Linked DNA regions of Homo sapiens. The protein of the gene in region 2 interacts with the protein of the main gene of each other region in a pairwise test. Each region holds a gene or a part of one and is shown on either strand. Other genes may lie near its edges.

Region 1 (3,500 bases), on a different chromosome or scaffold from region 2:
ATTTGCTTTAAATATCAGAGGTGCCAAGTGTTTATAAACATAGGCTTATATTAATAGATAGTTGATTTCTTGACAGAAGCATTAGGGAGAGGGAGTTTAACAATCACAAGCCACCAGCAGCTAAACGAGAACTTAGGACAAGTCAACATAATAATACTTTGGTCTGAAGTGACCAAAGACATCAATGAGACATGAAATCCGCTGGCAAGAACAAACAGAAACACACAGCCAGCACACATCTTTTCAGGAGCACAAACACGGCAAAAAGACAACCATTCCCAAACTGGCCTGATTCAAGAGTCACCAGGACGTTGTTAAAAACACGATTACAGCCAGGTGTGGTGGCTCACGCCTGTAATCCCAGCACTTTGGGAGGCTGAGGCAGGCAGACGATCTGAGGTCTGGAATTCTACACCAGCCTGGCCAATGTGGCGAAACCCCATCTCTACTAAAAATACAAAAATTAGCCAGGCATGGTGGTTCTCGCCTGTAATCCCAGCTACTCTGGAGGCTGAGACAGGAGAATCGCTTGAACCCAGGAGGTGGAGGTTGCAGTGAGCCAAGATAGCACCAATGCACTCCAGCCTGGGCAACAGAGTGAGACCCTGTCTCAAATAACAATAATAAAAATAAAATAAAAACACGATTCCCAGTCCCCTCCTCCGGAGAGTCCCATTCCATAGGACTGGGGTGGGGCCCAGGCATCTGCATTTTAAAATCTATTATAAGGAAGTCTCCTGTGTCAGGCTTGAGTGCAGTGGCACAATCAGAGCTCACTGCAGCCTCTAACTCCTGGGCTCAGGTAATCCTTTCACTTCAGCCACCACAACCTTAAAAATAGGCACATTTGGATAGAGGGTAAGAGGCCAAATCTGTCCACCTGCCCAGGGATGCAAAGCCAGGCTCCCCACTGTGCCCTCTGGTCCATTCAGAGGCAACATCCCCCAAGGTGGCAGGAAGCTGGGGTGATGGGAGCAGAGTGACCAACATTTCCCTCCCTCCTACTAGGCAAGAAGGGTCCCAAGGGAAAGGGTGGTGCAGAACTCAGGGGTGGCTGACGCATTCCGGCCCCACCCCTGGGGCCTCATTAACTGCTACTTTCCATTGAGGTAATGGGCTGGGGGTATCTCTTGCTGGCGTCACTGGTGCTGGAGAGCAGAGAACCCTCAGCATCATCTTGCCTTTCTTCCTGCCTCGGGCCTGACAGTTTAACCAGGGACCCCTCCAGGCCCGGAATCCAGGAGGAGGCTTCCTCCAGCACACAGACCACACCCCAAAAGAGGTGGTGCCATCCTCTTCCCAGAGCCAGGAGAAATCTGTCCTAGCTCAGCCCCTCCCCCAAACACTGGCCTTCTCCCAAAGGGGTAGGCCAGGGCCCTCAGTCATCCAGAGACTGTCAACAGGATAGAAACAGGAACACTGAGCCTCGCGTTCCTGGAGAGCAGGAGAATTTTTAATTACCATGTTTCGTCTTAAGTGTACACCACTCTCTTTATTTATTTGTTAACTTGGCTGAGTCTTGGCTGCCAAGCCAGTGTGCCAGGGTCTGTCCCCAGCTCCATCCCGGTACTAAGATGGAGTTTATCTGTCTGGGGACGAGGCAGATGATTAAGGAGGGGGTGGGAAAAGTGCCAAGACAGCATAATGCCCAGAGAGAGAGAAAGAATTTTAGGGACTCTCCTTTCAAAAAGGGGGGTTAGTAAAAAAAGAGGAGGGGCTTGGGGGGTCTCCCAAGCTGGATTCTGGAAGAACTGAGAGGTTAAAACAGAGATACACTGAAGCTCACCATAGGTTAGCCACCCACACTACATATGCTCGGTCACCCTCTTCCCAGGATCCAGTCATAGGGTGAAGGGGGTAGAGGCATTCTCCAGAGCTTCTGCTCCATTGTGTCACCGCTGTCCCTTACCCTGCCCCCACCCTGGCAGCCTCTGTACTGGAAGGAACCAGTTCACTAGTTGTGGAGGGGACATATTTGTCCCCAAGAGTCTTCAGGAAGGGGAAGAGACAGAAAGATGGAGAAGGAGGCATTGTAGCTGGGAAAGATTAGGGAGGAGATTAACCTCATCCCTCCCCACAGACATGCCGAGGCACCAGTGTACATGCACTCGGACGCATATTCAGGGATGCACACACCCTAATTCCTTTTACTTCACTCTTGCAGCAGCAAGACAGCACAGGGTGAAATGTGCCCTCCATGCATGCCCTCCACACATGGGGTCTTTTTTTGACCTACAAATATGATTGGGACAGCCAAAGGGCAAAGGGACTGGAGCCCTTGGAGGAGGGTTGGGGAGCAGTGATTCCTGTGAAAAGGGGAGCGCAGATCGATCGATCCCTTTGAGAATCTGATAAAAGCTATGGGTCATTCTCTTCCTAAAAAAATCCATACACCTTTATGTATGGTGCACTTCCAGCAATTTTACACACAGTATCAGAGGGATCAAGGATCCCAGCAACCTATCCATAGGGCTTCTGGGAATCCACAGACCTGAGCCTCACACAAAGGGGTCATGGCCTAGAGTCAATGGCCCTTACTACCAAATAGACAACAAAGTCATTTTCCCCAAGGATTCAGGGCTCCTGACAAGCCTGGAAAGGAACCTTGGACAAAAAACCAGCATATCTTTTACCATAGCCAGACACATATTGGGCTCAGCCTGCCTGAGCCTGGGTCTCCCTGTAGCAGCCTGATTCTTTCCCCAACATCTCAACAGATCCCAGGCACCCCCAAATCAGACACGCCCTCCTAGCCTCACATCATTCACCCCTGTGTACAAAAACCCAACCCCAAGGATATGTGAGCTGCCTCCATAAAGCCGCACTCACACTCACCCTTCAACGCCCGGACGCAGGACACTGAACCTGCAACCACACTGGAATCTTCCTGTATCTGCCCGGCTCCAACCTGTGCCTCCTCCAAATGCTGTCTTCACAGACCCACCCACACTACCAGGACCCCCCTGCTGCTTCTCTTCAAATTGGGGCTTTGGAAAAAACCAAACTGAGAAAGGGAGGTTGGGCTCTGGTCCCCTTTCCTCCTAATGCGTCCCACCACTGGCAAGTTTCCAAAGAAGCTAGTCCCTCCCTGCCACCCCAAAGCTCCCCATGGGTTGCCGGGGTCACTGACCTGGTGGGAAGAGACAGGAGAGGAGGCTGGGGTGGTGTTGGGATGGTGCAGGGGGACAGGGCCCCGGCAGCTGCATCTGTCTCCGCAGAGAAAGTGAGAAGGAGCGATCGGCCTCAGCATCCCCCCCTCAGACCTGGCCATCCATCACCAGCTGGGAACCTGAGCTGCTCCCTCAGAAGGAAGGAGAGGGAACCAAGGAGATCCCAGCGCCCACCCCCCTCACCTCCGCCTTGCAATCCCCACCCCACCTCCCCACCCACTGGATTTAAATGTACAGGGCAGCAGCATGTAACTAACACACACACACTCTCTCTCTCTCTCTCTCTCACACACACACTTGCTGTCACACCGACACTGACACAGACAGACA
Region 2 (3,500 bases):
TCAGTTTTCAACATTTTCTTGAGCCTGGATTTTTGGGGTCCTAATCAGAAAGGTCCAGAGAGAGAGGTGGATGGAGTGGCCAGGATGAACTGACATACCTCTGAAGAAGTTAATATGATAGGCCAGACGTACAGTGGTGTTTTGCTGGCATTTGAAATATGTTTGTGAAGAAATAAGCCACTACAATTAGTTAGACATTACCTAAAATGGAATAATTTTGAGCTTCCTCAAGTTAAAGTTTGCCTTTATAGATGACTGTAGGTTTTTTACCTGATAGGCCATGGGTGAGTTACACTTTTTGCCCATCTTTATAGTTGTGCATTATCAGATAAAATTGGTCCTTCATTTAGTATATGAAATCATAAGATGACATCTATGAATGTACCATGTTAATGTCTTCTTGTTCCTCTAGGTCAGCCTGCCAGTATACTGGGGGGCAGCCATAGTGAAGGACTGTTGCAGATAGCATCAGGGCCTCAGCCAGGACAGCAGCAGAATGGATTTACTGGTCAGCCAGCTACTTACCATCATAGTATGTACATACTTTAAAAAATCTTTTAAATAGTTGAGAAAAAAGTAGGCAGCCTTTATAAAAGCAAATTAACCCATGTGGGCCTTAATTTTTAGACAGCACTACCACCTGGACTGGAAGTAGGACTGCACCATACACACCTAATTTGCCTCACCACCAAAACGGCCATCTTCAGCACCACCCGCCTATGCCGCCCCATCCCGGACATTACTGTAAGCTCTTGTTTTTGTTGTAAGGGCTATTTTTTTTTTTTTTTTGGTAGGGCTTTGTTTTCTGTTTTTTAAAAATGTTTTTACATCTTTTATTCATCCTGTGATTTTGTTTCATTAAATAGTGCTTTTCAGTATTTTTTGTAAACAGTATTATTTTTCATAGTTATCCTACCTTTTTATTTTAGAGGAGTGATGTTTGCTAAATACATTTATTTCTCTGTTGCTAATGTTTCATTAACATCACATTGATTTCCATTCATTTGTTTGTTTGCTTTGTATATGTTCTTAGATCTCATCTGTGTCTTGTATATCCACGCATAATGGATTGAAACCCTTTGAGTGCTAAGTTCTCAAGGTTTCCCTCAGCGTAGTATTCAGTGTACTTTGGATAATGTTGAATCTATAGATAACTCTGTGCTGGCATGATTGGGAGGAATACCCTACAGATAACATGTAGTTTCAGGTAGAATAGGAGCATTGTTCATATGGCTTAGTAAAATCGAGAGTATAACTCTTATATACATTAAATCCCTTTCTTCTCATTATAATATTAATAGTACCAAAGAAAACTTAGAAAATATAGAAAAGTATAAATAAGAAAAGCAAAATTACCCTGAATCCTGCTACTCAAAAACAGCCACTTCTAATATTTTGTTATTTTCCTTCCAGTCATATAAACAGGTATATGTAAATTGACAGGGGCTCCTACTCTATGTGTATTGTATATATCTTGCTTCTTTTCAGTTATGTTACTATTTTTTCCATTTCTTAAGAGAATGTAATTTTTAATGGCTGCCTAGGCCGTCATAGTGTTGAAGGGTGCTGGGTTTGGACCTTTAACAGGCTGTGTGACCATTGACAAGTTATTTCACCTCATTAAGCCTCAAGAGTAATAATAGTAGTATCTACCTCAAGGGGTGTTCGTAAGAAGTAAACGTAATAATTTATGTGAGGTGTTTAGCACAGTGTTTTAACACATTACCAGTTTTCAATTATGTTAGCTATGATTCCATTAAATAAACATCCTTAATTAACATAAGCACTTGTTTTTAGAATAGACCTAACAGTTTATTATTATACATTGCATTATAAATTGTACTGTATTGGACGTTACATGAATAATTCATTTATGATCTGTATTAAATGTTGGATATAAAATTATGTGTAAATTGTGTAATAATAGCACTTGGCAGATAGCACTGAAATGTTAGTTATTAAATATCCACAAAAGTATTAATAGTTTAAGACTATTTGCTTATTGTAAACTTTTAAGTTCTTAGACATTGCATAAGCTTGTTTTAAACAATTCCTAACCTATAATAGTTATATTTAAGTAAGATTTACTGAAAGTTTTAGCATTAGACAACTTTTAGTAAATAAAAATGGAATTTTTGTTGTCTTTTCTTTAGGGCCTGTTCACAATGAGCTTGCATTCCAGCCTCCCATTTCCAATCATCCTGGTAAGTGTATTTCAAAATTGATTTCCTGTATTTAGATTGATTTAGTGGTGATTGAAACGCACAAACACAGGCTTTAATGGAATTATGGGGTCACTTCTCAGATGAGTACAATACTCATCATGACATGAGTTAATCAACAGTTTGAGTAGTCAATATAGTCACACATAGACTGTCTATATTTTATTCAGTTTAACTGTCCCCAAAAGAAAAGAACTATCTTTTCAGCTAAAATGAGAATTACAGAAATGCTGACTTCAGCATTGAATACATAAATATGCAGCAGAATAAAACTAGGTTTCAAAATAGAACAGCTGTAAAACTATAGCTTAAAAAGCCAGGAAAGAATCTTAAGTACATGCCGAAAAGAAAAATAATTCACTCTATTCAGGATCTCTGGTTAACTGGAATTTAGAAACTATTTGATTAAATTGTATGCAAAAGAGTAAATCGCTAAGTAGCTTTCTTCAGTTCAAAGTTTGTGTATAATTTTTGAAACTGTAGAGGTAATAAAACAGAAAACACTTGAAAATAAAATACTGAAAGTCCCTTGTAACACAAACATAGATTTTGAATTTTTTTCTCATCCTTTCGTATCTGTTTTTCTTAGCATAAAAAGATGCAAATATATTACTTCAGCTAATCACCTTAATTTTTTGGAAACTATAAACTCAATTTTCCTCCTAATTAAAAGAAAATTATGAAGAATTATATTTTTATTTTTACTTGTTTATTTTTGAGAGAGGGCCTGGCTCTGTTGCCCAAACTGGAGTGCAGTGGCATGATCTCAGATTACTACAGCCTTGACCTCCTAGTCTCAAGCGATCCTCTCACCTCAGCTTCTAGAGTAGCTGGGACTATAGGCAAGGGCCACCATGCCTGGCTAATGTTTGTATTTTAGTAGATAACAGGGTCTCACCATGTTGCCCAGGCTGGTCTCGAACTCCTGGGCTAAAGCAGTCCTCCTGCTAATAATTTTATTTATTTATTTATTTATTTATTTTTTTCCGAGATGGGATCTCGCTATGTTGTCCAGGCTGGTTTCGAACTCCTAGCCTCAAGTGATCCTCCTGTCTTAGCCTCCCAAAGTGCTGGGATTATAGACGTGAGCCACCACACCAAGCTTGAAAAATTAAAAAAATATATTTTTAAATGATTTTATTTTTGATCTTTGTGGGTACATAGGAGATGTATATATTTATGGGGCACATGAGATGTTTTGATACAGGCATATAATGCATGATAATCACATCATGGAAGATGGGGTATACATCCCTTCAAGCATTTATCTTTTGTGTT

What was found. The genes of interacting proteins can lie anywhere in the genome.
Region 1: the proteins of SMAD4 (region 2) and ETV4 interact in binary tests that used the Homo sapiens proteins (3 or more experiments, as listed by UniProt).

The regions. Positions count from the first base shown.
Region 1 is NC_000017.11:43,539,841-43,543,340, forward strand, and holds part of ETV4 (ETS translocation variant 4), read right to left. Parts: intron 1-3,500.
Region 2 is NC_000018.10:51,057,713-51,061,212, forward strand, and holds part of SMAD4 (mothers against decapentaplegic homolog 4), read left to right. Parts: intron 1-412; coding exon 413-532; intron 533-627; coding exon 628-744; intron 745-2,153; coding exon 2,154-2,204; intron 2,205-3,500. UniProt on the Homo sapiens protein: In muscle physiology, plays a central role in the balance between atrophy and hypertrophy. When recruited by MSTN, promotes atrophy response via phosphorylated SMAD2/4.